Regions from separate parts of the Homo sapiens genome. Here regions 2, 3, 4 and 5 are each linked to region 1. Evidence: fine-mapped expression QTL. A gene starts in region 1. Each other region holds a variant in brackets. All regions are shown on one strand. Distances are from middle to middle.

Region 1 (6,387 bases):
AACAAACATATAAACTTTTTTTTTTTTTTTTTTAAAAGACTGGGTCTCACTTTGTCACCCAGACTGGAGTGGAGTGGTGCAGTCACAGCTTACTGCAACCTCAAACTCCTCAGCTTAAGCAATCTTCTTCGCTGGACTTTTTTTGTTTGTTTGTTTGTTTTTTGATTAACAGTAATACATCTTGAGGCATCACTTAGCTGTCTCCTTGTCAATAGTAAACACTCATTGTTTTACCCAGCAGAAAATGTAGCCACATTCAGCTGCAATATACAGTAGACAACAGGTGATTCTTACCATCAAATCAAATTAACAGAAGCTGGAAAGGAGAACGAGATTTCATCAAATCCATGCCAGAGAGAATAATCCTCAAAATATCCCGCCAATAGGTAGTCCCTTATTTAATCCCTTGGACAATCAAATCCTTGTCTCAACACTCACAGTGATTTATTTTATATATAACCGAATCCTTCCTGCTGTAATTTACAGCATTTTCTTTAGTTCTGACCTTGAGGGAAATAAAGAGCAGATGCTCACACAGCTTTTAATATTTAAAGATCCTTAAGTCACTGCTGAGCTTGTCCTGCCAGTGGAGGTGGCAGGGGACACAGGTTGCTGCTTTGTCGCTTTTTCTGCTTTGCTCTGCTTGGCCTATATTTCTGTTTACAGGAGGCTTGTTCTTATCTGCGTGAATGGAAGACTATGAGTTATTTTCAGGTCAGCACAACTGGAATAACCTGATTTTTTTTTTTTTTTTTTACAAAATCTACAAACAATTGTTGGCTCCTATGAGGGGATTTCGCTTAAACAGATGATATTTAAAAATTACAATCAATTTTTCCTTAATGCTACTTAAAAGTCAGAAATGTAAAAACTTGACTTTTTTAGCTGGTCTTTGATTGCTTTAATCTGATATGACTGAGCTTTGTTGAAGCTTGGTTCCATCGTCACCTAGTATTAAAATCAGACAGTATTTTCCTTCCTTATCTGCAAAATAAGGCCCTCTGAGTCTTAGAGGTAAATTAATAAGTATTTCCAAAACTGCACATGGGACTGAATAGTCTTCCAAAGCAACTCCCAAAATAAAGTTCTTAAAGCACCTCTCAGGTTTATTGTTTCTTTATATTTTGTTGCAAGGTGGGCAAAAAGGGAGTGGCCTGGGCTAAAGTTCTAGTTCTGATTTCGTCCAGCATTTGTGGATCACAGTTGGCAGCTTTATATGTATACAAATATACACATACACACACTCCCTTTGAGAGCTTATTTATACATATAAACTCATTTATATATGTGTGTATGTGTGTGTGTATATATATTTAAGGCAAAAGGAAGAGCACTTAAATCCCGAGTCTGGCAAGTCTCATGCTTGGCCGCGTGTGGTGGCTCATGCCTGTAATCCCAGCACTTTGGGAGGCTGAGGCAAATCACTTGAGGTCAGGAGTTTGAGACCAACCTGGCCAACATGGTGAAACCCTGTCTCTACTACAAATAGAAAAACTAGCCAGGCATGGTGGCATGCGCCTGTAGTCCCAGCTACTCGGGAGGCTGAGGCAGGAGAACCACTTGAACCCAGGAGGTGGAGGTTGCAGTGAGCTGAGATCGTGCCACTGCACTCCAGCCTGGGTGACAGAGCAAGACTCTGTCTAAAAAAAAAAAAAAAGTCTCATACTTAAATCCTGCGTCTGACAACCATATGAGTTTCTGGCAAGATTTAAACTTTCAAAGGCACAATTTTCTTATTGGCTAGATAAGAATAACAATTTTCACCTTGCCAGTTTGTAGTGAAGATTTCAGATAATGAATATAAAGGAACTGGTATAGACCATGGCCCATAGTAGGTGCTCAATAAATACCTTTATAAAGAAACAAACACATTGCAATTCTGATATGACGGCTGCCTTCTTATTTAGAAGACTATTCTGCTTGGTTTTTTTTTTTATTCTAATTTCTTTGGATTTATAAGCATCCCCCACAGCTCTTTCAAACCAAGGATCTTCACAGATAACAGTGTCTAGGGAATCTTTCTCTGTTCTCCTAAAACAAGCACTTATTTTTAATGATGGTCTTATATTCTATAAAAATATTAAAATAACATCTTCATATGTAGTATTATATATGAGGGAAAGAGACATTTGAGCCAGTGTTCACACTTGACCATGTTCACACTTTTAACCAGGTAGAGACTCGTGACTTTGACTCTTATTTTGGCCTTTACTCAGGCTCTGACTGCAGATAAGAATCAGTTTTGCCTAAATTTCAATTGCTTGGGAAAGGTCCTCGATAACGGAAGTCTACATAGAATTGTGAATAAATACCCCTGTGAAAATAAAGGTTAAGTCTATATGTTTACTTGATAAAGCAGATAATTTCAGAGTATAAACACAGTTGTGTTTTGACTTCTCTTCCTTTTGCCTTAAATATAGATATTTATTTGTGTGTGTGTGTATGTGTGTGTATTTATATATATATAAAGTTGCCCACTGTGATCCACCACTGCTGGAGCAAATCCAGAACTAGAACTTGGTCTCCTGGCCTTCAGCCCAGAGCTCATTACAGTCTCATTCTAAAAACAAGTACTTCATACTGATTGCATTTCTACACACACATATGCAGATTTCTGGACACTCTTTCTGTTTTTCTTTCATTTATGTTCTCAATGCTGAACCTTTATTAGAATTACATCATCACTGTGGTTCTTTAAATAAGAAACAAAACTCTGTCACAACATCTGAGGAAATTATCTTTTAATGTCCCCAAGCTCTATGCCTTGGAAAAAAAAAACTTCCTCTGCTGTTCAAGAATAACAGGCCCCAGAACAAGCCCCAAAAATAAATGACAAAGCCCATCTTACTCACAGGAGGAAAGGATCATGGTAGCCCCTTCTGCGGGGAGCACACAACAGTCTTCAGTTCTTCTGCGGTGCTCTACTCACAAAAACACATCTTTCAACTGAAATCATAGTTCGCTCAAGATGTTTCTCACGGGCAGAGTTAACCCCACCTATTTTCCTGTTCTGAAAACCTCAGAAGAGTATAAATGACAACCAATGGCATATATAAGAAAGCTCAGTAATCTCCATCCCAATCTCTGAGGGTATCTGCTATTAGTCTCTCATCCCCAAAGGTGTGGGTGACTCGCAAACATCATTTTCAAGAAATCACAAAATTTTGGTAAAAGGCACCTTTAAAATTATCAAATCAAACTGCCCTCTCTGGACTGGGAAGGAAATGAAGGCACAGACAGAATAAGGGACTTGCCCAAGGCCACACCGTGAGTGGCAGAAACAATTAGATTCTAGGCTCTGGAATATTGAGTTTAGAATGTTCCATCCTCCCACTCAGCAGACACTTTATTTGGGGGAAGTCAATCTAGTAATAACCCTAAAATGTGATTGGGGGATGGCTGAGAAATATAAAAACACCAACAATACAAAACACACTTGGGAGTTTCACTTCATCCCACTGGAAAGCATAACCATGTGTCAACTAATTAACAGAGCAACTTTAATGAAGACACAGCATATTCTAATCGCCCTTCCAATTTCCTGGTTTAGATTAAGGTCTCCTTAGCATTCTGGGTGATGACTGTTATTTTTACTTCACCTTTTGCCTTTGTTATGCTTTCGTATAAAACTTTTTTTCTAAGTCTTAGTGAAAAATATTTAAAGATTTTTGAAGGAAATGTTGACAAATGTTGCCAGGTGCTATCTATCTTGTTTTCCCATAAAAAGCATACACTGACCATTAGGACAGGGACTCTATCTTCTCCTCACTCTCTTTCATACCACCTAGTACTTCCCGTAGCTCCTCAAGGTGAAAAGGGAAGTATGGGATGGGAGGAGGGAAGGTCAGGAAGGAAGGAGAAAAGGCTGACAGTGATAGTAAGGTAGAGTGTGCCAGGACCGACTCCTTCAATGAGCTACAAGTCAGTTAAAAGTTGTGCATGGTTAGCAACCAAAATGCCCATCAATGATAGGCTGGATAAAGAAAATGTGGTACATATACACCGTGGAATATTATGCAGCTATACAGAATGAAATCATGTCCTTTGCAGGGACATGGATGGAACTGGAAGCCGTTATCCTTAGCAAAGTAATGCAGGAACAGAAAACCAAACACCACATGTTCTCACTTATAAGTGGGAACTGAACCATGAAACACATGGACACAGGGAGGGGAACAACACATACTGGGGCCTGTTGGGGAGGGCAGATGAGGGGAGAGCATCAGGAAAAATAGCTAATGCATGCCAGGCTAATATCAGGAAATATATATATCAGGCTAATATCAGGAAAAATAGCTAATGCATACCTAGGTGATGAGTTTTTGATAGGTGCAGCAAACCACCATGGCACACGTTCACCTATGTAACAAAACTGCACATCCTGCACATGTACCCTGGAATGTAAAAAAAAAGTTGTGCCTGTTTTTGTGATGGGGGTACAGTTAAACAGGTAGACAAGAAGGAATGTGGCAGATTGTGATAAGGCTCGGGATAAGCAGTTTACTTTCTTCCATTATGAGGGGCACAGGAAAAGAATAAACACAGCCTTCAGTGGATGGACTGCCTGGTGCACAGACTCTAGACTGACCAGGATGAAATGAAATGGTTCTCCAGGGTCAGAGTGAAGGCGCTGCCCAGAGCAGCCAGCCTGTGTGTTCACCCAATGCTCCAGAGCAGACCATCGTGGCCTGCAGAGGAGACGCAACTCCTGAAGGGAAGGCGCTGTGTCTTCCTCGGCTAGTTACCCCACCAACAGCAAGAATAACGTGTTGGGCAATAAACGGTCTCTGGATGACTGATACAGTTTCTTTTCGCTGGCGCTCACGTGACCGAGATAGTTTCTTTTCCTTGGCGCTCACAAGGCAAAAAGGAAGGCCCTAATTCCGTTGATGTCTTAGTAGAGCTTCTAAGGGTGAGAAATCCACACACACAGTCTTGACAGCAGGGTCTCCTGAGAGGCTGTACAACAATCCCACCATCCAGGAACCCAAGTCCAACCAGGCCTCCTGAAAAACGTCCGGGAGGCACGGAACACCATGCTGGCTGCTTCTCTCCGTAGCTTCCTGGATCCTCCGCCACAGCTCAGGCTGCTTCCGGGTCCTATGTGAGGTGGGGGCAAACTTTGTTGCGAAGGTCACCTGATCCTTCTGCCCCAGAGCTCAGCACTTCCAATTATAGTGTCTGTGTCCCAGGGAATATTCTTAAGGCTTAGAAGTAGATTACCCGGTTTAATTTTCCATCTGATTCTGATTAGCTGCGGCCACCATGGGCAGGATTACATAGGCCAAATGCACGTGGTTAAGCTGGACAGGCATCCCCAGACACATTTACCTGAGTGAGGAGGGGGCGTTACTCATAGAAGAATCTAGACTTTCTTCTCTTCAGGCATATTTGATGTTCAGGGGGAAATGAATTAACAGCTATAAGGCACAGTCTCTAGTCCTAAGAAGGTGAACTCCTATACTACAGGATTAAAAGTTTCAATTAAAAGACAATTCGTGTTTCTCATAAATATATAACTTTATATATTATATATATTTACAATATATACAGCATACAAATATTGTTCATGTAATACTAAGAGCAGTCTTGAAAACTGAGATGTTTTCAAAACAAAAGATAGGTATTTATTTATCCAAGATGGGTTCCTGATGTATCTAGAACCCAATTGTAGACAATGTCTCAGGCCCAGATTTCTGTAGAAGTCAAAGGGAAAAAGAAGGGTTGCTTGGTCATGACTCTAATACCCTTCCCCTTCCCAAATACCCTGGCCTTCAACTGGCATCAGCTAACATGGTCCCATGTGTGCACCCCTGAATGGCCAAACCCTGGGGCTACACACAGTGCCTGGTAAACAACTGTCACTCAAGTGCCTGAGGAATGAATAGAAATGAGTGATTTTAATCACCATTTCTAAGGCAACATTTCCACACTCTGGGAGATTCTGTCTAGAAGCAAGTCTAGACAGAGGCTGGTCTAGAAGCAAATTATTTATGTGTTTCCACTGTATAAGTAAAATGATCTACATGTCCAAGTGCTCAATAAATTAAAAGCCACAAAATGCCCATCCTTCCTTGTGCTTGGGAATCTGGGAGCCACTGGTCACACATCACTTATCTTCCAAAAGTTTCTTCACATTCAACTAGTTCATCTATTGTGCGCAGCAGATCTTCGAAAGAAGGCCTTCCCTCTGGTTTCTACAATTAAAAGTCAAAGAGAAGCTGTGGGTTCCAGAATCCATTCCACAAAACCTCTCACTGCTCCAACTCCTAAACACAGCATATTACAGAGAGACTTCACTGCTTTGGGACTAGGACATACAGGCATCTCCAAAGGGGTCTTGTCTCTACCCTAATTTACCCTGCATGTACTGCTGCTAGGCTAACG
Region 2 (6,387 bases), 750 kb after region 1:
GTAAGCACTCTTTTAGCTGCTCTGTTGGTATCTCAGTAGTTGCACTCCCCTGACATCTGCTGGCTTCAAACACAGCCTAGCACTAAGACTTGCCTTGGAGTTGCAGTCCTTGTGGCCTACCCTGTCTTTCAAGTTTACTTAGGGGTTCAGAGCACTTCAGCCCATGGTGGGAAGGCTTGCTGGAACTCTGCTTGTTTGGATGATTCCCTTCTGACTAGGGATGGTCTAAGTGCTACCTCCATGGGCAGGCATCAGCTGAGTTCAGTCAATTCCCGCTGTGACAGAGCAGCTCTGAGTTTAATGCAAAGTCTCACAGTTGTGCTCTCCCTCTCCCAAGCACACAGATTTTCTCTCTGTGCCATGCAGATGGTTCAGGGGTATAGGAGAGGGGTGGCAATGGCAATTCAAGACTATCTTTCATCTTTCTTCAGTGCCTCTTTCAGCGATATGAAGTTAAAACTAGGTATTATGAGTGCTCACCTGATTTTTGGTTCTTATGAAGATGCTTTTTTTGTGTAGATAGTTATTACATTTGGTGTTCCTGTGATGAGAGGATGATCAGTGGAGCCTTCTATTCGCCGTCTTGCTCTGCCCTCCTACCACATTTTTTAATTAAGATTTTATAGAAAAGCAGAACTGCTATCAATGATATAGAGTAAGGGATTTATTACAGGGATTAGACCTTAGGCAACAGCTGATGGATCAGCATTCAGGCTATTGCTTTTGTATCTAGTATTGGGCATGTTTTTCTTATGGCCATGATAGAGACAGAAATGGAAACAGAAAAGGCCTCTTTAAGCCTAAATTTGGAACTTCAGCACACCTTCATTTTGGGCTTATATTTTGCCTAAAGTCATATCCACAAGCTGAAGGTCAAGAAGATAGGTAAATATGCCCCTGTTCACAGTAGGAAGGTAATGCAAAATTGCATGACAAAAGGCATGGGTATAGGAGAGGTAAGTATTAATAATTAGGGCCAGTAACAATCTACTATGCAATCTAATTATGTATTCTTAAATTTCAGTAATAGTAGTAGTAGTAATAACTAACATCCATTGAGTGGTTACTCTGAGCCAGGCACTATTCTAAGTAATTTGTAAGTATCAGCCCATTTAATTCTCTTGAGAAACCTATCAGGTAAGTCTAATATTATTTCCATTTTACAGATGAGGAAACTGAGTCCTGGAGCAGATAAATAATAACCCAAAGTCAAGTAGATAGTAAGTGGTGAAGCCTGGATTTGAAGCACAGGGCCTGATGCAGAGCCTCTCTTGCTAACAGTTCCGGTCCCTAAAGCAAAAATTATAATAATCCTGCCCTTTTCTGAACTGGTCAATCCATTTTTGGAGTTTTTGTGTATGAGGACACCACAGGCCGAAAGCTATCCCAAGACCAGGTTGTGACAGGGTTGGAAACCCACTCCAATGGTAAATAAAACTAGGGCCCTTTAGCCAAATTCCAGGAAGCATGCTTTCCAGTATTTCAATGCTATTTTGTAAAAGAGGAATGAGAATTGTATTTTGTAGCCACCGGCAAATTACAGGTTTAAGCTGAAAAGCATTTATGAAATGCCCATCTCTGCAAGTATGCTGCTTGAGGATTCAGAGATAAGAAAAAATGAGTACACTGTCTATCTTGGAGGAATTTCCAGTTTAGAACAGGAGGGAAGCAAACTTGGGCTCCCCATAAGACTTTCTGAAGAATTTAACAGCTGGGCAGTGTACTGGGCTGCATTGTTGAGCAGTAGGTGTCCTTCCCTCGGAAGTATGTATGTGGGGGGTCCTGAAATCTCACCTCCTGGGACAGTACGGAGGAGACTTCCACAGTGAGTGCTGCCGGTTGTGGGGGGGCGGGGTTGGGGTTGGATTGGATCCCAAGCCAAGAACTGGTGATGAGAATATAAGCTCCAGGAGGATGAGATTTTTGTTGGTTGTATTCACTGCTATATTCCTAGGACCTAGGACAGTTCCTAGTACAGAATGAGTGCTCAATATTTAAATATATGAAAGAATGTGAATATTTTAAAACCGGGAGATTTCACATAAAAACCTGCATTTGCTTGCACTGAATATTGAACAAGTGGAAGATTTGGCAACAGTGGGCTTATCTATTTTTGTGTACGGAAGTGAAGAATACACCTTTGTTTAATATGCCACTAGCTCAGCTTCACTCAATTACATTGTCCGTCTGGTCCTGTTCTTTGCAGCCTCTGAGTTAATCACTGAAATCTCTGCCAACTCCAAGTGTCTACAAAACTGAATTTTATAGTTGAAATTTGGGAGCAGAGTTCCAAAATGGAGAGGTTTTCTGTCAATTAACAGTTTGCATTGTTTGAATATCAAGAAAATTGCCTACACAACATTTGCATTACATTTCATTACTTAATCAAATCATTCAAGATACATTTTTATTGCTATTACTTAATCAAATCACGCAAGATACATTTTTATTACTTTCATAATGTTAAACTAGACAAACCATTCTGACAGCAAAGGAAGAGAATATCTTTGTTTAAATGAGAATTTTAAAATATATAATAAGCATTATATACAGTATATTATATGCTACATATTTATATATGTAATAATATACAGTATAATATCTATAACATATGAGTCTTTCTGGAAACTGATCTATTTTAATAAGAGAAACAAACACAAAAGGATTATTCCACTATTTTTTAAATTATAAAACATACATTTCATTAGAATACAGTTTATAGTAATAACTTTTGAACTCCAGGATCACACAAACTGAGGCAAAATTTAGAACAAATGATCACCATAGCTAATGGTGGAATGTTTGGTTAATGCCTTTGAAACTAAAAATATCTTGAAAGCATCCTTTCTAGTCATCCACTTGTATGTAAGCCAAGAAAGAAACACACTTCTAGGCATCACTGGAGTGCCATGGAGGTGCATGGAATTAAGGAAATCATTTTGATCTTTTCTGGTCGAGTAAGGATCTTCCTTATTTTCATTAGTGTCATTACCCGCTGTTAAAAACATTTTATTATGTTGTCTAGAGGAACTACAAATGTGTTAGACAAGGTTTGCTGATTTCAGATATCAAGTTTGTCTCTTCTTACAGGTGCATCCGTGGACAAACTAATGTTACATTTTAAATTCCATTAATCAAATTCAAAATAATGGGAAGGTTTGCATTCTCGTCACTGTAGAATATCAGTCCATATCATCCTAGGGAAAGTTTGCCAATAAAATTGGTTAGACATCCAACTTTTACTACCGTGTAGTCTCATCAGTTCTTTCTTTCACGTGAGTCTATCTACGATTTTATCTTGCTGTTCTTTTCCAAGTTTTTTTCTTTTTTTTTTTTTATCATGAAGGTACTGCTTTCATAAGCTTGTGACCAGCTTTGTGATGAGTGTTGGTAATGGTGAAATGTCAAAAGGCAGGTGCTGTTCCTTTAACACAAGAAACAGACATTCTCCCCCAGGTACTAGCTTTCTAATATGTACAATAGATAGGCAGCTGGGTGCGGTGCCTCATGCCTGTAATCCTAGCACTTTGGGAGGCTGAGGCAGGTGGAACCCTTGAGGTCAGGAGTTTGAGACCAGCCTGGCCAACATGGTGAAACCTTGTCTCCACTAAAAATGCCAAAAATTTAGCCAGCCGTGGTGGTGCATGCCTGTAATCTCAGCTACTGAGGAGTCTGAGACAGGAGAATCACTTGAACCTGGGAGGCAGAGGTTGCAGTGAGTCAAGATTGTGCCACTGAAGTCCACCTGGGCGACAGACAAGCAAAACAAAACAAAACAAACGAACAAGAAACCCAAAAAAATAGCAGCAGAATAATCAAAGCCTCTTGGATGAACTTCCAGTTTTTTCCTTATTGATTTTCTTTCACTCTAAGATAGATCGTCATGATAAACTGCTTCAATGAATAACTTCTCTACGTAGGAAATGTAGAAAGCCCAAGCA[A/G]TAAACCCAATTTGATTGAGAAGAACTATGAAGATGTCATCTGTAAAAACAATGCTCCTTTCAACAATAATAAATGTATTGGCCAGGTGCAGTGGCTCACCCCAGTGGCCCAGCACTTTGGGAGGCTGAGGCAGGTGGATCACGAGGTCAGGAGATGGAGACTATCCTGGCTAATACGGTGAAACCCCATCTCTACTAAAAATACAAAAACTTAGCCAGGCTTGGGGGCGGGTGACTATAGTCCCAGTTACTTAAGAGGCTGAGGTAGGAGAATGGCATGAACCCGGGAGGCAGTTGGCCGAGATCGCACCACTGCACTCCAGCCTGGGTGACAGAGCAAGACTCCGTCTCAAAAAAATAAAAAAAAAATAAAAATAAAAATAAAAATAAATAAAATAAATGTATCTTTCCCCAGTACCTTGGGATAGATTTTTTACATTGACTTGCTGTGCTAAGCAATGTGAAATGTTCTGATCCCTAGGAAATCATTTTCTGGGGAGTAGGAAATAAATGTGCCCAATTCTGAATTTTTGCCAATAGCTGAGATAACAAAGAGTCACCAACTGCTAGTTATCAGAGACAAGAGTTAAACTTGCATTTAAGATGATAGGATATTGGCTTTGCATTCTGATTTACAGAAATAAAACTTTATGGACTGAAAAAATAGCATACGTAATATAAAAAGAGGCTTACTCTTAATGTTCATGTAAAAATTAAAACTTCTGTATAATTTGATGTTTAAAATAAAATATTTCATGTAAACGATTAACTTTTAATGAAGTTTCTCTTTTAACTTCCATGATACATGTTCAAGATGTATTAAGTAAAACCCAAATGTGTACATACACAAACCTCTTATATATCTATCTATCTATGTATCTATCTATGTATCTATCTATCTATCTATCTATCATCTATCTATCTATCTATATATATATATATTTTTTTTTTGAGATAGAGTCTCGCTCTGTCACCCAGGCTGGAGTGCAGTGGCACAATCTCTGCTCGCTGCAACTTCCATCTCCCGGGTTCAAGCAATTCTCCTGCCTTAGCCTCCTGAGTACCTGCGACTACAGGCATGTGCCACCACACCGGGCTATTTTTGCATTTTTAGTAGAGGTGGGGTTTCATCATATTGGCCAGGCTGGTCTCAAACTCCTGACCTCAAGTGATCTACCTACCTTAGCCTCCCAAAGTGCTGGGATTACAGGTGTGAGCCACTGCACCTTGCCTATATATTGATATAAATGATGATACATATATAAAGCATTCTTCTGAGAAGTTGCAAAGATGCAAGAGTAGTTTTTCTGTAGGGCTCAGACAACCTGTCATACATAAAACAAAAGGTTCCCACATGGAAGGGTTTCTTTTTTTTTCCTTTCTTTCTTAATTTTTTTTTTTTTTTTTAGACAGAGTCTCACTCTGTTGCCCAGAGTGGAGTGCAGTGGCACTATCTTGGCTCACTGCAACCTCCACCTCTCCAATTCAAGAGATTCTCGTGCCTCAGTCTCCCCAGTAGCTGGGATTACAGGCATGCACCACCATGCCCGATTAATTTTTGTATTTTTAGTAGAGACAGCATTTTACCATGTTGGCCAGGCTGGTCTCAAACTCCTCCAGTGATCTGCCCGCCTTGGCCTCCCAAAGTGTTAGGATTACAGGTGTGAGCCACTGCACTTGGCCAGATTTTGTTATTGTTGTTTTCATGCAACAAATCTGACAGGAGAATAGGAGTCCAACCCCTGGAGTTGCATTGGCTGCCTCTGAACTCCCTAGAATTCTAAATTTATCATTCCATGTATTAATTATTCCAGTGATTCCTCCCATAAATAAGTTGTTCCTTGGGGAAAATGAGAGACAATTTGGGAAGTTGTGTTTCTTGTTTCAGGCCACTAGTAGTATATGAAAGAACCCCATTCTTGAGGGCTGCCCATAAGCATGTGCCCATTTGCTAAGCAGATAACCTAAAGACAAAGAGGCCAGGCATGGTGGCTCACACCTATAATTCTAGCACTTTGGGAGGCAGAGGTAGGTGGATTGCTTGAGCTCAGGAGTTCAACACCAGTCTGGGAAACATGGCAAAACCCCCCCTCTACAAAAACTACAAAAATAGTGGGCATGATGGCACACACCTGTAATCCCAGCTACTTGGGAGGGTGAGGTGGGAGGGTGGCTTGAACCTGGGAGGTCGAAGCTGCAGTGAGCTATGATCATGCCATTGCACTCCAGTCTGGGTGACAGAGCAAGACCCTGTCTCAAAACAAAAACAAAAACCAAAACAAAAACCAAAACAAAAACCAAAACAAAAACAAAAACAAAAACAAAAAAAGACAATGGTCACTTCCAAAACTCCACTGTTGAACCATACTGTTGAACCATAAGGTCACCTGGAGCACTGAAAGGATAGTTGATTCATATTTTGACCCTTTCCAACAAAACACTTTTC
Region 3 (6,387 bases), 190 kb after region 1:
CCATTGCATGATGTTTGGCAAAAAACAGATTCTGCCTCCCACTAAGGAAGCCAGAAAGAGCAGATACTTGCTCTCCTAGACTCCTCACAGCTAGGGAAATACCATGTGACCTAAGGTCAGCCATTTGGAAGTTCCCTGCTCAGGACTTAAGAGTTTTGATACAAAGAAGCAAGAACAGGATAGTATAGCATTAATTCTGTTGCTGGAGGCAATATCCAGCGTCCAGTGGAGTGACAGTAGTGAGAACAGAGTCAAGGGGTGAGAGCAAGTGTCCAAGATAAGCAGACTGTTCTGGTGGTATCTCTGGCTGAGTTCCAGACTGCCTAGTCCCTTCAGTTCCTGCTCATTTCCTGAACCTGCTCCTCCAGTTTTCCCAATGATTCTTTTCTTTTTCCTTTTTTTTTTTTTTTTTTGAGATGGAGTCTCACTCTGTCACCCAGGCTGGAGTACAGTGGTGCAATCTTGGCTCACTGCAACCTCCACCTCCCAGGTTCAAGCAATTCTTCCACCTCAGCCTCCCGAGTAGCTGAGATTACAGGCATGAACCACTACGCCTGGCTAATTTTTTGTACTTTTAATAGAGACGGGGTTTCACCATGTTGGCCAGGCTGGTCTCGAACTCCTGACCTCAAGTGATCCGCATGCCTCAGCTTCCCAAAGTGCTGGGATTACAGGCATGAGCCCCTGCGCCTGGCCTATCATGGGTCTTTGCTGAGAAACCTTACTTGAGGTCTATAGCTATATCAGTATATTGTATTTACATCTCTATATGAAACAGAGCATTTCAGCTCATTAATACTCCATAATTGTGAATGAAAATTAAATAGCAAGTTTCAAGCTGGTAGGGAACCTATGGCAATGCTTGAAGAGGAGGGGATCAAATAAAACGTGGACTTGTGAGGGAAATCCACTTTAAGATAATTCAGGTTGAATTCAGAGATTTTAATATTTGTAGTAATCTATCACATCCACACTCTTCAGGGAAGGTCTGAGAGTTGAATATTGCTTAGAAGGAAGGGAAAGTTGAGAGTAGAGAAATGCTGTTCCACCTCTGTTGCATGCACTTAAAAGAGAGAATTTATAAATGGCAGATTTTGATTACTTTGCTATTCTATTTTAGCTTCTATTTTTTGTCACTTTTATTACACTTTCTTCTCTTTTATTGTAGTATCTGATTATTTTATACATGATAACTATGGACAGCAGAATTTTTTACAAACTTATTTCCTGAAACTAAAATGGTAACCATTTTAGAGAATGCTTGGGGATATCTAGTTAATTTGAAGATGCACATGTAACCCAGAAATTGTACCTGTAAGTATATATCCTAGAGAAACTCTTGCATATATGCACAAGGAGACATATACAAGTATGTACTTACAACATTGTTGGTTGTGTCTTCTATTAATAGAAGAATGAACAAATTAATTGTGGTCTATTTATTGAAGAGTATACCATACAGTAGTGAAAAAGAATGAGCTAGGCCTACATGTATTAACATGGGTGAATCTTGAAAACATAATGCTGAGGGAAAAAGAAGATTGGATAAGAATACCAATAATAGTATAACAGCATTTGAAACAGTGTGGCATAGTCATGCAGATGTGCTGGTGTCAGACTTCCCTGGTTCAAACGTGCCCCCACTATTTACTATCAGTAAGACCCAGGCAAGTCTCTAACCTCGACTGGCCTCCAATTTTTTATCTGTAAAGTGGGGATAATATTTTCCACATCTTATAGTTACTGTGAAAATTACAATAAGTTAGTACTAAAGTACTAACAGGAGTACATAGCACCATCATTTTTATGTATATTGTATAAGAATGTGCACATGTTGGTAAAAGTACATACAAATAAATGATTGAGAATGATAAACACAAATTCAGGATAGTGGTTATCTCCTGGAAAAGGAATATTTCTTGATCTGTGGTGGCTACATGATGGGTTTGTTGTTATTCTTCTTATGCCTTTGTGTACGACTGAACTATTTTATGATAAAATTTATGGGCCGGGTGCAGTGGCTCACGCCTGTAATCCCAGCACTTTGGGAAGCCAAGGTAGGAAGATCACAAGGTCAGGAGTTTGAGACCAGCCTGGCCAACATAGTGAAACCCCCGTCTCTACTAAAAATACAAAAATTAGTTGGGCGTGGTGGCACACACCTGTAATTCCAGGGAGGCTGAGGTTTCAGTAAGCTGAGATCGTGCCACTGCACTCTAGCCTGGGCGACAAGAGCAAAACATTGCAAAAAAAAAAAGTGTATATATATATATTTTTTAAATATCTGTATATTTATATATATTTTTTATATATAGATATAGATGTAGATTTTTTTTTTGAGACAGAGCCTCACTCTGTCACCCAGGCTGGAGTGCAGTGGCAGTATCTCCACTCACTGCAACCTCCACCTCCTGGGTTCCTGGGTTCAAGTGATTCTCCTGCCTCAGCCTCCCGAGTAGCTGAGATTACAGGCATGCACCACTACACCCCGCTAATTTTTTGTATTTTTAGTAGAGATAGGGTTTCACCATGTTGGCCAGGCTGGTAACTCCTGACTTCAAGTGATCTACCTGCCTCGGCCTCCCATCGTGCTGGGATTACAGGCGTGAGCCACTGCACACCTGGTCTATTTTATGATAAAATTTAAATCGAATGAAATTTATTCTTAAAACTATAAATACAGTGTAACCAAATTTCTGAGAAATTGGAAACTAGAGGAAAAACTCCAAATTATACCATCTTATCCCACAATTTTAAAAATTAAGTAATTCTTCCAACAACTGAGTGACATTGGTGAATGAAAATGTTATTTTTGCAGCATTCTTCATAATAGCCAAAACATGGAATCAACCCAAATGGCCACCGACAGGAGAAGGGATAAACACAATGTGGTATATCCACACAGTGGAATACAATTCAGCAATAAAAGAGGAATGAGATGGTGATATATGCTACAACTTCAATGAAATTCAAAATCATGCTCAGTAAAAGGAGCCAGACACAAAAGACCACATATTGTATGATTCTATTTGCATGAAATTTCTAGAGAAGGCAAATCTGAGGAAGCAAAGAGTAGATTAGTGGTTGCCTAGGGCTTGGGAAGGAACAAGGAGTAACTGCAAATAAGCATGAAGAATTTGGTGGGAAGACAGAAATATTCTACAACTTAGTGACTGTGTTGATTACAGAACTTTGCATATTTACTCAAACTAATTGAATTATACACTTAAAAGGGTGAATATTATGGTATATAATATATGTCAATAAAGCTATTTTAAAAAGCAGTCTTGGCCAGGCACAGTGGCTCATGCCTATAATCCCAGCATTTTGGGAGGCCAAGGTGGGCGGATCGCTTGAGGCCAGGAGTTTGAGACCAGCCTGAGCAGCATGGTGAAACCCCATCTCTACAAAAAAATTCAAAAATTAGCCAGGTGTAGTGGCAGGCACCTGTGGTCCCACCTACTTGGGAGGCTGAGGTGGGAGATCGCCTGACCCCAGGAGGTTAAGGTTGCAGTAAGCCAAGTTCATACCACTAAACTCCAGCCAGGGCAACAGCGCAAGACCCTGTCTCAAAAAAAAAAAAAAAAAGAAAGAAAGAAAAAGAAAAACCCTCTTAAAAATAGAATAAACATTTATGCTTGGGTGGGAAGGGAACATTATTTCCATTTATAGGCATGAACACGGAAGGATATGATCCTGAGAAAGAACCCAGAATCCTACTCCCTATGTCAGCAGAAACTCCTTTCTGTCAGGGTATCTGTGAGAAGGCCACCTTGGAGTAAGACATTTACCAATGTGGAATTGCCACAGT[TA/T]AAAAAAAAAAAAAAAGTAGTGGTGGTACTGTTGGCTGAGGGAAAGCCTGAGATGGTGCTCCTAGTTCTTCATGACCTGTGCATGGTTTACAGGAGATTCAGAAGTTCCTGTATGCCCTGATTTGGGGAGGGTGAGCACCAAGCCTGAGAGAGTGAACTGAAAGAAGCCTGGAGATTGAGATTCTGGAACCACGTATCATATATATGTCGATGACCCCCAAATTATATCTCCAACTTAAATCTTGTACCTAACTCTAGGCTTCCATCTCCAATGGCCAACTGGGTGTCTACTCTTGCACAGAAAGATCAAAGTAAACAAAGCTCCAAATGGTATTCTTCATTTCTTCAGCCCTAAATCTCTTCCACCCCACCACTCTCCCTGATGGCCACCCTCTCTCCTCTCCACCCCTCACCCATATCCACTGTCCCAGTCTCCTCAGCATGGAATCTACTTTCTCTATCACCACTGATATGGACAGGAGACAGGGAAATACTGGGCAGAGGAGGGCATTCATTTCCCTGGCAAAGGCCCCACCCTCAAACCTGGAGACCTGCAGTCCTAAGAGGGAACAGGCATTTTTGCTTTCATGCCTAGAAAGTTAGCTTTTGGCCTGCCACACCCCCCTATCCTGTACCCATGTAAACCCCAAACCCCAGACTCCAGAAGCAGATGAGGAGATGGGGAGATGAGGAGACAAGCAGACGAATGCCATGGCAGAGAAAGAGACAAGAGAAGGAACATCTGAATGCCAACAGGAGCTCATCTGGGGGTGGTCAGAGAGGAGTTCGGCCGCTGGATGGCCAAAACTCTAAGGGAAGGTCATCTTCCCACTCCATTTCCCTTCCAGTTACCCATCCATGCCACTGAGAGCCACCTCCACCACTCAATAAAACCCTGCATTCATCCTTCAAGCCCATATGTGACCCAATTCTTCTGGGATGTTGGGCAAGAGCTTAGGATACAGAAAGCTGTCACACTGGTCTCCTCCTTGAGAAAAGGCAGAGGGTACACTGAGCTCGTTAACACTTAAGCTGTCTGCAGATGGCAAGGCTAAGAAAGCGTTATAACACTGAGGCCGCAGGCACCCACCCCTAGACACTACCATGGAGCTGGAGCCCAAAGCACTTTCCCCATTCCTGCACCTGCCCATAAGCATGCTCCGCCTCTTGTCAGGGGTTTGAGCAGTGGTGGAGACCAAATGGGCGAGCCACACCCCTGTCGCACATTCTGCAAGGGGAATCAGGGAATTCTCCCGTTTCACCTTTGCCACCACCTATTCTTGGCCACCATCATCTCTCCCCTGGACGAAGCAACAACCTTTTAACTGGCCTGCTTCCACTTTTGCTTTCCTCCAATCTATCCTCCACACAAAAGCAAAGCTCATTGCAAATTGGGTCTTGTCACTCAAGTGCTTAAAACTCTTCAACAGCTTCTCATTGTACACACAATAAATCCAAACTCTTCACCTTGGTCTGTAAGGCCCTGAATAATCTGGTCCCCACCTAATTCCCAATTCCCTACAGCACCAAATGGCATTCTTCCCCTTACTTACTACATTTACTTATGCTTGTTCTTTTCTCAATCTTCACAATTCCCTAAGCTAACATCTCAAGAGTTTGGCATGCACTGTTTCTTCAATTGGTACCAATCCTTCACCTTCTCATCTTGCAGACTTCAGTTTAAATGCCACTCCCTCAAAGTCACCTTCCCCACTCATTCTATCTAAGGAAGCTTTCCTCTTTACTCTCCGCCTTCATTCTTCATTTGTTTTCTTCATAGCACTTCTCATTCTTAGCAGCTATTATGTATTGGTTTACATATTGTTTATACCACTTCCCTTACAAAAATTGAAATTCTATGAACCATGTGCTGTTCACTATTGTAGCTTCAGCATCCAGCATAATACCTGGAATGCTGCAGCTGCTTAACAAATGTTTGATGAATGAAAGCACTTAGAAAACCACACAGATATTTCCCCCTATTGTCCAATTTTCAGAAAGAAACAGATTTTGTTGGCCATATCAGGGCAGTTTTGATTATAAGTAACAGAACACCACCTAAGCCTAAATAAAAGAGAGTTTTTTTTTTTTTTTTTTTGAGAGGGAGTCTCGCTCTGTCACCTAGGCTGGAGTGCAGTGGCGCCATCTGGGCTCAATGCAGCCTCTGCCTCCCGGGTTCAAGCAATTCTCCTGCCTCAGCCTCCTGAGTAGCTGGGACTACAGGCACGTGCCACCATGCCCGGCTAATTTTTGTATTTTTAGTAGAGACGGCGTTTCACCATGTTGGCCAGGATGATCTCGATCTCCTGACCTCGTGATCTGCCTACCTCGGCTTCCAAAAGTGCTGGGATTACAGGTGTGAGTGCCCAGCCCAAGAGAGATTTTAATATGCAGACACATGGTTCTCCCAGGAAGCTGAAGGGCAAAAGCATAGGTATGTCTTGGAAAGAACTCAAAGCAGGAATTAGTGCAAGGTAGAGAACTCAAGGATTTTGCCCTACTTGCAAGCTATCAAGTTAGCCTGCCTCAAGTTTCATGGCAGAAGACACAAGATTCCTGCATTAGAGACAAAGGA
Region 4 (6,387 bases), 47 kb after region 1:
TCTGCTTTACAGAGGAGACAGCAGTTATCCAGGGGCACATCCCCAAATTCTTCCTTCTGCAGTTCAAGAAAATGCTAAGATTTTACCCTTTTTGCTTTTCTTTTACCCTGTCTCTAAGAGAAAAGTTAAAAAGACACAATGGTTGAGACACTATCGTTGGCACTGAACACATGTTATCTCATTCTGTGCTCACAATATCCCTGTGAGGTACACATTATTCTCCTCATTTTACAGATGAGGAAACTGCAGCTGAGACAAGTTATGTACATTACCCAGGCCCTGAGCTGAAAGGGTACATTTTGGGTACATTACCCAAAGCCAGCTAGACTGTGAGAGATGCCCGAGATGCAAAGCAGTAAGAGGACTCATGGAGCCAAGTCCCACCATGGACAAAAGGGGTTCTAAGCAGCCTTTCCACCAGAGCAGGGAGAAGGAAGGACATCCTCTCTGGTCATTCTCTGCTAAGGGCTTCTCCCACCCTGCCTACAGACGCATTCAGGGCTCTCCTATCCAAACCGGGAAGCATGCTTTTCACCTGCTGCTACTCTAACCCTTCTCCTCTGTTCCTAAAAGAGAAGACAGTGCACCCTCAGTTTTCATTTCTTTACCACCCACTCCCTCCTTAACCACTTGCATCTGCCTCCCACCTCATAGCCTGCTAAGGCTGTTATCGAAAACATTACTGATGATCAAACCAAACGGTCTTCTCTGAATTGTAAGCCACCTTCTGAGATTTGCAAGTGCTGACACTCTTCTGCGCCCTTAGTGGCCCTGACTTTGGGTTGTCCTGGTTTTCCTTTTCTCCCTTCCCTTCAGTTTCTCACAGGACAACACCTGTCATGTGTCAACAACTGTGTGAAGAATGACAAAAAGACAATAGGACAAGCTCATTTCCTGAGCTTGTAGCCGCAGAATTGGGCCAGGTGCTTTTAATCCTCACAGCTGCTCTGCAAGGTAAGGATTACTACACCCATTTTACTGACAAAGAAACTAAAATTAAGTAATGTGCCCAAGTTTACTTGTGGAACAGACTGACATAGCAACTATCATGTAATGACGTGGGTAGTATATATATATATATATATATATATATATATATATATATTTTTTTTTTTTTTTTTTTTTTTTCAAGACAGAGTCTTGCTGTGTCACCCAGGCTGGAGTGGAGTGCAGTGGTGCAATCATGGCTCACTGCAACCTCTGCCTCCTGGTTTCAAGCAATTATCCTGCCTTAGCCCCCCAAGTAGCTGGGATTCCAGGCGTGTGCCACCACGCCCAGCTAAATTTTGTATTTTTAGTAGAGACAGGGTTTCATCAGGTTGGCCGGGCTGGTCTCAAACTCCTGACCTCAGGTAATCCACCCACCTCGGCCTCCCAAAGTGCTGGGATTACAGGCGTGAGCACTACATATAAAAAAGATGCTAAGAGAGCACAGAGAACAATGGCTTACATTTCAGAAGAGGAATGGCAGGAAGAGAAATCTCAGTGAAATGAACAGTAGATGCAAAGAAAAAACACATTCCACCTGACCTCAGTTTCCTCATCTGTAAAATGGGAATAATAATAGTATCTATTTCCTAGGTTTGTTATGAGAATTAAATGAGTTAATATTTGCAAAGTGCTTAGAAGAATGTCTGGCCCATCTGCATGTATTTAGTAAATAACTGTCTAGCTCTAGGAGCAGCAGGCCATGGTCTGCTTTCAAAACACCCATATCTCCATGTACCACCTGGCCTGGCTTCTAAAAGCAGCTGTCAGATGTGGATAAATAGATATAAGAAAATTTGGGATGACTTGATTTTACTTATGTCCCCTAAATTCATACTCTGTGATATATAATCTCCTAATATCCTGTACGGTTAGGCTGGTGCAAAAGTAATTGTAATTTTTGCCATTAAAAGCAATGGCAAAAGCTGCAATTACTTTTGCACCAACCTAACAATATTTGGACTGACTTTCTCCAAATATCTTGTTATGAAACTAGCAGATACAGGTTCACATGTAAGTTGATCACTCATTCTTTTATTTATTCTGCCAGCAAATACTATGGGACACCAACCCAACTGGGCAACAAGCACCATGCTGAGTGCTGGAGTTTCAAAGTTATGAAAGGAGGGTTGAGGGTCTCTTCAAGAGGATTTCATAATATGATGGGTGGAAGGGGAAGAGGGATGATTCACAGTCTAGTAATGATCAAGCAATGTTCTCTTGTGGTATCCTACAGAGTGGGGCAGTGATGGGGCCACAAGAAGATGGGGAAGATTCAGGAAGGAAGTGATATTTTGATTTTATTTTTAAAGGATAAGTATGAGTTTTCCTACAGAGATAATGGAGAGAGTTTCAGGCTGCAAAACAACAAAGTGCTGAGTATTTAGGGAACAGAAAGAAATTCACTGTGGTTGAAGCTCAGGGTGCTTTAGGAGGCTTGTAGGGAATGACACCAAAGAGGCTGTCTGAGGCCACATTAGGAAGATGCTTCTGCACCAGCCTTACAAGTTTGGATTTATTCTGAGCAGTTTTACATGGAGAATCAGGAGTGCAGTACTGCGGTGTGTTTTTAAAAATATAATGATTAACGGCAGGTGAAGAGTGAGTGTTGACAGGGAGGCTGGCTGGGCAACTGCCGTAATAGTTCAGGTGAGAGATGAAGTTCTAAACCAAGTCAGTGGCAGTAAAGTAAGAAAAGCAAAGACACCAGATAATTTAGAAGGCAGAGTTCACAAAACTTTGTGACCACTTAGATATGGGGATTAAGAGTAGAGAAGGACTGAGGGGGGCTAACGGATTTTGAGTTTGAGTGACCAGGAAACACGGACACCATGAATCATGAGAAGGAACACAGAAGGACAATCAGGTGCGAGGAGGCAGGGCTGGGAAATGTTTGAGTGACAATTGAACAACCAGGTGAAAGTTAAAATATGGGTCCAGAACTCAGAAATGCTTAGCACTGTCTTTATAGATAAAGACAATTCTGCTGCAGAAATGCTTAGCGCCATCTTTATAAAGACAATTCTGCTTTTCACAACACATATACAGTATATATAGTGGCAGCTTATTCTAGCCACATCTGAAGGTAACCCTGGGAGGTTAGGCAGGGCTGCGGAAAAAAAGGATTGGAAGGGCTGGGCACCGTGGTTCACTCCTGTAATCCCAGCACTTTGAGAGGCCAAGGAGGGT[G/A]TATCATGAGGTCAGGAGTTCAAGACCAGCCTGGCCAACATGGTGAAACCCCATCTCTACTAAAAATACAAAAATTAGCCAGACATGGTGGTGCGCACCTGTAGTCCCAGCTACCTGGGAGGCTGAGGCAGGAGAATAGCTTGAACCTGGGAGGCAGAGGTTGCAGTGAGCCGAGATAGTGCCACTGCATTCCAGCCTGGGCAACAGAGTGAGACTCTGTCTCAAAAAAAAAAAAAAAGAAAAAAGAAAAAGAAAAGAATTGGAAGGGATAAAGGATTCACCATAGGGAACAGAGAGTTACTGAGTGAGGCATGCTATCCCATGCACTTTCTCCCCGAGCCCACTTTAACTCCTGACATGCCAGCTTTTTAAAGCTTTTCCACAGTGGGGCCCTTTAGGAATAAAAGCTTTAGGAAATGATTTCTGAGCAGTTACCGTAGAAGGAACTCACAGTTTCTCCTCCATTTAGACTATTCTTTAGAATTTCTTCAGTAAGAAAATACTTCATGATTCATGGCATATGCTATATGCTATTGTTAATATTGTGGCCCATCTGGGTGGAGTTGCTCATGCCTGTAATCCCAGCACTTTAGGAGGCCAAGGCAGGCAGATCACTTGAGGTCAGAAGTTTGAGACCAGCCTGCCCAACATGGGAAAACCCCATCTCTACTAAAGATACAAAAAAATTACCCAGGCTTGGTGGCAAATACCTGTAATCCCAGCTACTCTGGAGGCTGAGGCATGAGAATCTCTTGAACTCAGGAGGTGGAGGTTGCAGTGAGCCAAGATCGCACCACTGCCCTCCAGCCTAGGTGACAGAGCGAGACTCCATCTCAAAAAAAAAAAAAAATTGTGGCCCAAGGGGAAATATCCAAGGTCATTACTTTTTTTTGTGTTATATTTCCTTTCTATTCTATAGCCTTTGCCCTGCTTACTAGACTGAAAATCATGATAAAGCTGAGACTTTCCCTGACTCACCTTTGAATCCTCTATGAATCTGCCGAGCTAAGAAGACCACCTGACACTTAGTGGATACTAATTCAACAGTGTGCTGACCCAGTATGCAAAGGACCATGGGCAATACTCTGTGTGTGTGTGTGTGTGTGTGTGTGTGTGTGTGTCCTCTCTTGCACACTTTGCAAAGCTTGAAAATGGAAGTAAGCAATGACCATTTTATATATTGTAAACCAGCGTATATGGGAAAATGAGGCATTAAGATGAAATATAACTTGCTTTAAACTACACATCAACTGAATGGCAGAACTCGGAGTTAGATGGATGAGATTCTGTCCCCCAGCAAGACTTACAAGGTACACTGTTTTCCTTTAATTTCCAGAATACTCTGTATTTTAATAATACAAATATCCATCCTAATCTAAAGAAATTAAGTGAGAAAAAAATGTATACAAATAACCAGGCTGGTCTCAGGTGATCTGAGAAGTCATTTATCTCAGGACACCCTCTTGTCCTTTTCCCAAGGCATCCAGAGTCCCCACCACACACAGGGAAAGGCTTGCCAGGGTGTCCCTCCAATATTCCAAATGATTCGTCCCTTTCCCACATCACAAATTTTATTCCTGATGTGGCTGTTCCCAGGGTCTTGTGGCAGAGGAAATCTCCTGGGTGAATCATGTCTGCATTGCAAGAGGACCTCAGAGAAGGAGCATGAGCTTTGGAGACAAGCAGATCCTGACTTCTAGCCTCTGCTTTGCCACTTATAAGCCATACGACCTAGGGCAATCCCAGTTTTCTCTCTGTGCTTCAGTTCCTTTCTCCGTAGAAATAGGACAATGCTGCTCTCTTTGCCAAGCTATCAGCAGGATTAAAGATAATGTTCATAGGTGCTTAACAGTGTCTGACACATGGAACTCTGTGATGGTTAATTTCATGTGTCAACTTGAGTAGGCTAAGGGATACTCAGACGGCTGGTAAAACGTTATTTCCAGGTGTCTGTGAAGGTGTTCCTGGAAGAGATTAGCATTTCAATCAGCTGAGTGAGTAAAGAAGATCCACCTCTGCCATCGCAGATGGGCATCATCCAATCCGATGAGGGGGCAAATAGAACAAACAAAGGCAAAGGGAAAGCGAACTCTTTTCTTAAAGCTGGGATGTCCATCTTCTCCTGCTCTCAGACTTTGGTGCTCCTGGCTCTCCAGACTCCAAGGCTTCCACCAGCAGCCTCCTCCCCTACTCCTGGTTCTCAGGCCTTTGGACTTGGTCTGAATTACACAATTAGCTTTTCTGTGTCTCCACATTGCAGATGGCAGATTGTGGGACTTCTCAGCCTCCATAATCTATTGCGTGAGCCCATTTCCATAATAAATCTCCTCATATACATCTATATGTATCCTATTGGTTCTGTTTCTCTAGAGAACCCTGATTAATACAAACTCACTCCCCAAATAGTAGCATATACTGTCAGTTTTCACAGTAACCCTAGGAAGTTGCAGGAAACTGAGCACTGAGAGGCTATGAGACTGGCTAAGGATTGTAGAGGCTGAGCCAGAATTGAACTAAAATCCCTCAAAAACAGTAATGCTTTTACCTGACTCCAGGTCTGTAAAGCTTGAATAGTTATGGACTTTTATTATTAAAAAAAAGAATATTATCATGTCCATAGCTAACAATTATAGAACACTTACTATAAACCAGCAATACATTAGCCTCTTAATGTGGATAATCTCAGTGAATCCTCACAGCATTATAACATGAGAATTACTGTCACCCCCATTTTGCAGATGGAGAAATCAATACATAGAGAGTATAATTAACTTGCCCAAAGTCACACAATAATCCAGGATTTGAACTTTAATTCCAATCCTGAATTTGTAAGTGCCACCTATACCTAAGTAACTTGGTATCATTTAACTATGTGCAAACATAAATTCAGTAGAAATTTCTTAAACTTATAGCTTGTATACAACTATAAAATCAAAGAAAGTTCACAAATTAAATACAAACAAAACTATACAGCAAATAAAGTGAAATTAACATTACTTGGATGTGACAGATGGGGTGTTGGCTGGAATTGAATCTCTCCGTAAGTAGTTCTCTTGCCATCCACATGCTTATATTACTGTGTGCCACATGACACCCTCTCCCACCTCTTTTCTCAATTCAATTATAAAGAACCTCTGTTTGTACATATATTGCTATCCTATCATTAGGCCTCATTTTGCACCACTGAATTGTTTTGTGTTCAGTCTGTCT
Region 5 (6,387 bases), 28 kb before region 1:
CCTATAGCCCCTGCTATGAAGTAGGTCTTCATTGTACCCTGAGCCATTACTGGCATTGAGTTTTGAGTTACAGAACTGATTATTTCTCATTCGCATTTCTAGATTTCCTCAATATCCAACAGCAGAGCAAAATGACACACATACTCTTACCTAGTTTCTAGTTCTGACTCTACTTTTACCCACAGTTAATGTTTACTGACAGTTGGAAATTTAAACTATAGGCAGCTTTGTGTTGGTTTGACCTAAATGAGCAGTTTTGATCTCAGTTTCATATTTTGGCTATTCTACTCTTTCCTTTGTTTCCAAAGAACAAAGAAACTGCAGCAGCATGTATTTTTCTTTGTTTGTGTTTTTAATGAGTCTAACCTAAGTTCCTGAGGATCAAGTTTATACTTGACTGCCTTTGATGCAAAGGTTATAATGAGCAACTCAAATACAGGACTCCAGACTGGGCGTGGTGGCTCACACCTGTAATCTCAGCACTTTGGGAGGCCAAGCCGGGCTGATCACTTGAGCTCAGTAGTTCAAGACCAGTTGGGCAGCATGGCAAAACCCTGTCTCTATAAAAAATACAAAGAAACTAGCCAGGCATGGTGGCATACCTGTAGTCCCAGCTACTCAGAGGGCTGAGGTGGGAGGATAGCTTTAAGCCCAGGAGGTCAAGACTTCAGTCAGCTGTGATCGAGCCACTGCACTTCAGCCTGGGTGACAGAGCGAGAGCATGTCTCAAAATATATATATATATATTATATATTATATTATATATAATATATATTTTATATATATAATATATAATATAATATATAATATATATAATATATAATATAATATATAATATATATAATATATAATATAATATATAATATATATAATATATAATATAATATATAATATATATAATATATAATATTATATATAATATATATAATATATAATATTATATATAATATATATAATATATAATATTATATATAATATATATAATATATAATATTATATATTATATATATAATATATAATATTATATATTATATATATAATATATAATATTATATATTATATATATTTTATATATATAATATATAATATATATATATAATATATATATTATATATATATATAGAGAGAGAGAGAGAGAGAGAGTCCATTGGCAGAATGCACCTTGGAGTGAATGCAGGAGTCTGCCTATGTTGGAGCTGAAAGCCTTTCAGGAGAAACGTATTTCTGAAATTATAATGAAAGTTGATGGAAAACATGATCTAATACAAATATATCTGATTTACAACTTCACATAAAATATATAGTTGGGATGTAATGATATTTTAGAACTAGAAAAGACAAGAAATAATATACTTTTTTAGTTGGTTAAAGTCTTTATAAGTACTTCTCAGAGATTTTGAAAATGTCCACAAATACATTGAATTACCTCTTGTCTCAATAGATGTTCTGCCTGATTTCTGGTAATGTTTCTATGGTACCACCTGTAAAAGCAATAAAAATGATTTTTAAATTTTATATTCAATTTTTTTAAGAAAAAAGTGCTTCATTTTCTTCATTTTTAAGAACTTACTTCAGAACTGAGCTTAGAAAGTTGAGTGTTTTTTTAAATTCAGATAAACAATAATATACTATTGTGGGTTAATTAAGTTTAAAATAATTTTATTTTCAAATCAATATCTAGTTTATTCTATCATATCTCAATTCAGCTTCCAATATACACTTAGTATATCATTATGAATGATTTAACTTCTTATAAATTTCCATGAAAGGTATGTGGTAAATCATCTTGAACAAACACTGAGTTTTGGCAGACAAACTGAAAAAATACTCATTTCTGTCTTTCCTCTCAGAAACTTCCTATTTACATGTTTTTATAGGTGCTTTGTTACCCCTTCCAAAAATTAAAGCCCATTCTTACTTTTCTGACACTCCTAAGTATATTACGTCATAGTATAGTCAGTAGTTAGTAGATGTTCTCACTTACAAGTGGGAGATAACAGGGGGAACACATAGCCATAGAGATGGAAATAATGGACACTGGGAACTCCCAAAGCAGGGAGGATGGAAGTGGGGGTGAGAGTTGGAAAATGACTTATTGGATAAAATGTTCACTATTTGGGTGATGGGTACACCAGAAACCCAATACCCACCATTACACAATATACTGTTGATAAAAAAAAACTTGCATGTGTACCCTCTAGATCTAATATAAAATTTTTAAAAAATCAAAAAACAGAATACATGGAACAACCAATACATGAACTTGCCTCTAACACCCTCTCCCGCCTCATCTCTCTCCTGAGTCTCCCCTCACTCACTAAGCTTCAGTCTCATTGGAATTATTTCCTTCCTCAGATTCACCAACCCCTTTTCTGCCCCCAATCATGCTGTTTTTCTCTGCATGAAACATGTAGTTAAATGACTTTAGAATATCAGAAGTACACACAGTAAACATAATTAACTAATACTGTAAGCTAAACATACAGTTTGATATGGTAATACCTAGTCAGTAAGCAAATGTTGTACAGGAAGGAGAAAGAAAAAATGGTAGAACAAAAGAGAGAGAAAGGAAAACTGAAAGGCTTTCATTTCAAAACAAGACTTTAAAAAAATTTTAATGCTTCATGAATTTGTGTGTCATCCTTGCACAGGGAACATGCTAATCTTCTCTGTATTGTTCCAATTTTTAGTATATGTGCTGCCGAAGCAAGCACTCAAAAACAAGATTTTTAAGAAGGTTTTAAACTTAATCTAATATTGCCAGATAGAAGTATGTGACAAATTCAAGATCTTTTAAAATAATTCAGAATTCTATCAGGCAGGAAAGAGATTGAACGAATGGAACTTAGAGGAGGCAAGAGCACAGTATTTCAGAATTTCATCTATTTAAATCAGATTATAAAAGTTAGAAGGGTTTTTTTTTTTTAATATGTAAGTAAAACTGTAACTCTTAGACAACTCTTAGACCTAGACAACATTGATTACAACTAAGACCAAATGATGTGTATGAAGGAGTTAGGGACAGGAATCCTATGAACATTTTTTTTTAAATCCAGCACGTCCAGCTATGGGTGAGTAGAAACATCCTGTATGTTATGTGAACACCTCTGGTCTCATGTCCCAATCTTAGATTTCTATAAGTAAACAGTATTGTGTTCTTGAATTTTTGATCTAGAAACCCCATTAGATCTGAGAATGTAAATCTGCTTCTCTTAGTAAATGACTTTCTAACTGTGAGAAGATTAAGGATTCCGTGTACAGATAATGAGATAAATGAAACTCATGCTTCTGTAAAGTTCAGGAATAATCAATATGTTTGGTATTTAAAAT[A/G]TCTATTATTTTAAGAGAATCTGGCATATTAGATATTTGCCTCTGATTTAAAAGGCATAATTAATTTTAAACTTGTTATCCGAAGTTGAAGATAATTTGACTTGTTTTTAAAATGATATTTGTACAGTTAAAAGAACTTGATTTCCCACATTTATAAGTTTAGTTTATTAGATTTCCAGGATCATTTAAAGACTTGCATAGGGCTTATTACAATTGTAAATTTGCCCTGTCAGGCATGTGAAGTACTTTGGAAGAAAACTGAATTTATTCAGTTTATTAATGCAAATTAAAAGTTTCCAAAAATTTAATTAACTGAGCTTATAAATAGGACTGATTGTTTAAGGATATCTAGTATGTTGAGTTTGAATTAAGCTGATTGTTCTTACTTCTTTAGATTTATATATAGTATACCAAATTTTATAAGTTGAATTTGAGGACTTTCTGAAAACTAGGTTTTTCCATTGTAATATTGATAATTCGGATATTCATTTAAAGTAGCCATAAATCTTTCTATGCACAAAGGTTCCTCTGAAATATCAGAACTCCACATTGACACAGCATTCCTTCCACCATACCCCACCCTCCCCCCAAAACACACACTACCTGCTACCACCTTTAGACCTCAAGTCACTTCCTCAGAGCCAACCCAACATCCCCCATCTGAATTACATCCCCTGCCCTGTTTTCTTCCACAGCGTCCAATACTGTTCCTTCAAAACACTACAGTTTATTTTATTTTTTTTCTTCAACTTTTATTTTAAGTTCCGGGGTACATGTACAGGATATTCAGGTTTGTTACATAGGTAGATGTGTGCCACAGTGGTTTGCTGCACAGATCAACTCATCGCCTAGGATTAAGCCCAGCATCCATTAGCTCTTCTTCCTGATGCTCTCCCTCCCCTTGCCGCCCTCGCCCCAACCCCCGCCCCAGGCTCCAGTGTATCATAACACTACGATTTAAAATTGTACATTTATGGGCCGGGCGCGGTGGCTCACGCCTGTAATCCCAGCACTTTGGGAGGTAGAGGCGGGCGGATCACGGGGTTAGGAGATTGAGACCATCCTGGCTAACACCGTGAAACTCTGTCTCTACTTAAAAAAAAAAAAAAAAAAAAAAAAAACCGGGCGTGGTGGCGGGCGCCTGTAGTCCCAGCTACTCAGGAGGCTGAGGCAGGAGAATGGCGTGAACCCAGGAGGCAGAGCTTGCAGTGAGCCGAGATCACGACACTGCACTCCAGCCTGGGTGACAGAGCGAGACTCTGTCTCAAAAATAAATAAATAAATAAATAAAATTGTACATTTATTTGTGGACTTAGGGTTGTTTAATGTCTGTTTTTCCCCAAGAACTGTAAGTTCCATAACTGTATATTTCAGGTTGTTATATCTGGTACATCGTAAGTGTACAATAAATACAGATGGAACAAATAAGGTGATTTGAGGACTGAAGTAACGAAGGAGTGTTGAATGCCTGTAAATACCAGGCATGGTAGCCCAAACTGTAAATGTTTTTCCTGTTAGTTTCATAGTTCATGAAATAATAATAATCACTAGAATGTATTGAACATGTATTATGTAACAGATAGAATAGATACTATTTTCTCTGCTTTTCAGATCATTCAGAAGTTTAGAGACATTAGGTAACTCTGCCCAGAACCAAAGCACTAGTCAGTGCTGATGCCAGGATTTGGACCCAGGTTGTTCCCATTTCTATACACATGCTCTAGTACTTCAACCTAGGGCAGTAACTTTCGTACAGTCATTAGAACAGTGCTTGGCACATAGTGATCAATAAATTTCAGTGATCAATAATGATAGCTATTTTATCTACATATTAATAAAGCTGTTTTTAAAAACAGCAATAAAATGAAAAATGAGTTTTCTCATAATTGGAGTCATTTTAAAAAGGATGATTTTTTAAAAAAACACATATATAAATCAAGGCCCAAGGAAATGAGGTAGCAGTTGTAGCCCCAGAGTAGTTTAATTCAGATGATCCAACATCCACAGTATAAACAGGCTGTTATAGCCAGAGCCTAGGCCTTGTCTAAACAGGGTAATCAATGAGCAAATTAATGAATAATGAAAGGGTGGAAAGTAACATTCCTAGGTAGTGAGTGTCCATTCACTAACCACCAGGCACTGTGTTAGCTACTTTCACAAATGTCTCCTTTAATCGCTTGTAAAATCCAAATTATATGAAAAAAAGTCTCATTTTTCTAATTTTTCTGAGCAAGAGATTTTCATATAATATCTGTAAATACATACAAAATCTCTGACCTGGCTTTGCAAGAGGCCTGTTTTTGTTGGTCAGCTTCAGCTCAGGATAGCAGTGAGACCTCATGAGGACATGCTCTTGAGTAGATAGCTGTGGAACTGCTTTTTTTTTTTTTCTGTCCTTTTTTTATAGAGATAGGGTCTCACCATGTTGCCCAGGATGGTCTTGAACTCCTGAGCTCAAGCAATTCTCCCACCTCAGTCTCCCAAAGTGCTACGGTTACAGGCATGAACCACCATGCCTGGCCTCTTTTGTTTTCAATTTTTAAAAATTGCCATGCTAATCTTCTCTGTATCATTCCAATTTTAGTATATGCTCTGCCGAAGTGAGCACTTTGGAACTGTTTTCTAAGGAAGGTGGGTTCAGTCACCTGAGAACTTTGATTTACTGGAGATTAGAATCTCGGGAAGGGCTAAATGGCTCCAATAGAGACAGGAGGCCAAGTGAAGGTGGGAAAAGAGAGAAGAGATCCTATGATGGAGCTGAGGAGAGTGACTGGAGAGAGAACAGAAATAGCTACTGGAGAAATCTCATAGAGTAATGTAGATGAGTCATGTGTCCTGAAGTCATCTCCTTCTCTCCTCCAATAAAGTCTACATTATCCACCAAAGCTTTTGAATTCGAATTTGTTTTAGGAGAGATGTACTGAGTTAGGCCTCCAGGTGGGCTTTATTAGTAGCAAGACCAACCAAGGAGGTTCTCTCATTCAATTGTATTTGCTGCCTGGTTCTCAGAGAAGCACTTGTCTTAATGCCTCAATGCATATTACCTACTGCCACCTG

Which allele goes with the higher level. Positions count from the first base shown, and alleles are read on the strand shown. Sizes are in standard deviations (SD) of each study's normalised expression. Not every link is listed here.
As copies of T replace TA in region 3, the expression in prefrontal cortex of the gene that starts at base 2,948 in region 1 goes down (small effect, 0.38 SD a copy in CommonMind).

Evidence for each region. PIP is the estimated chance that this variant, and not a neighbour inherited with it, causes the effect.
Region 2: its variant is the best candidate, but not a certain one, in a credible set for the expression of TXK in whole blood (TOPMed, PIP 0.68).
Region 3: its variant is the best candidate, but not a certain one, in a credible set for the expression of TXK in prefrontal cortex (CommonMind, PIP 0.69).
Region 4: its variant is the best candidate, but not a certain one, in a credible set for the expression of TXK in T cells (TOPMed, PIP 0.55).
Region 5: its variant is the best candidate, but not a certain one, in a credible set for the expression of TXK in blood mononuclear cells (TOPMed, PIP 0.81).

The regions. Positions count from the first base shown.
Region 1 is chr4:48,131,303-48,137,689 of GRCh38, forward strand. It overlaps TXK (TXK tyrosine kinase), which reads right to left and starts at 2,948. Exons shown (of 15, transcript NM_003328.3): 1 at 2,853-2,948. The coding sequence starts at 2,868. TEC (tec protein tyrosine kinase) reads right to left here. Exons shown (of 18, transcript NM_003215.3): 18 at 4,481-6,197. The coding sequence ends at 6,114. RefSeq lists a silencer at 2,390-2,684.
Region 2 is chr4:48,878,278-48,884,664 of GRCh38, forward strand. No RefSeq gene overlaps it. Among named protein-coding and RNA genes, the nearest start is that of OCIAD1-AS1, 21 kb to the left of the region's middle. The variant A/G (reference allele first, on the strand shown) is at 3,942.
Region 3 is chr4:48,322,817-48,329,203 of GRCh38, forward strand. No RefSeq gene overlaps it. Among named protein-coding and RNA genes, the nearest start is that of SLAIN2, 16 kb to the right of the region's middle. The variant TA/T (reference allele first, on the strand shown) is at 3,812.
Region 4 is chr4:48,178,273-48,184,659 of GRCh38, forward strand. All of the region lies in intron 2 of TEC (tec protein tyrosine kinase), which reads right to left. Among named protein-coding and RNA genes, the nearest start is that of TXK, 47 kb to the left of the region's middle. The variant G/A (reference allele first, on the strand shown) is at 3,178.
Region 5 is chr4:48,103,475-48,109,861 of GRCh38, forward strand. TXK (TXK tyrosine kinase) reads right to left here. Exons shown (of 15, transcript NM_003328.3): 6 at 1,427-1,481. It also overlaps the pseudogene RNU6-838P and the pseudogene LOC124900886. Among named protein-coding and RNA genes, the nearest start is that of TXK, 28 kb to the right of the region's middle. The variant A/G (reference allele first, on the strand shown) is at 3,331.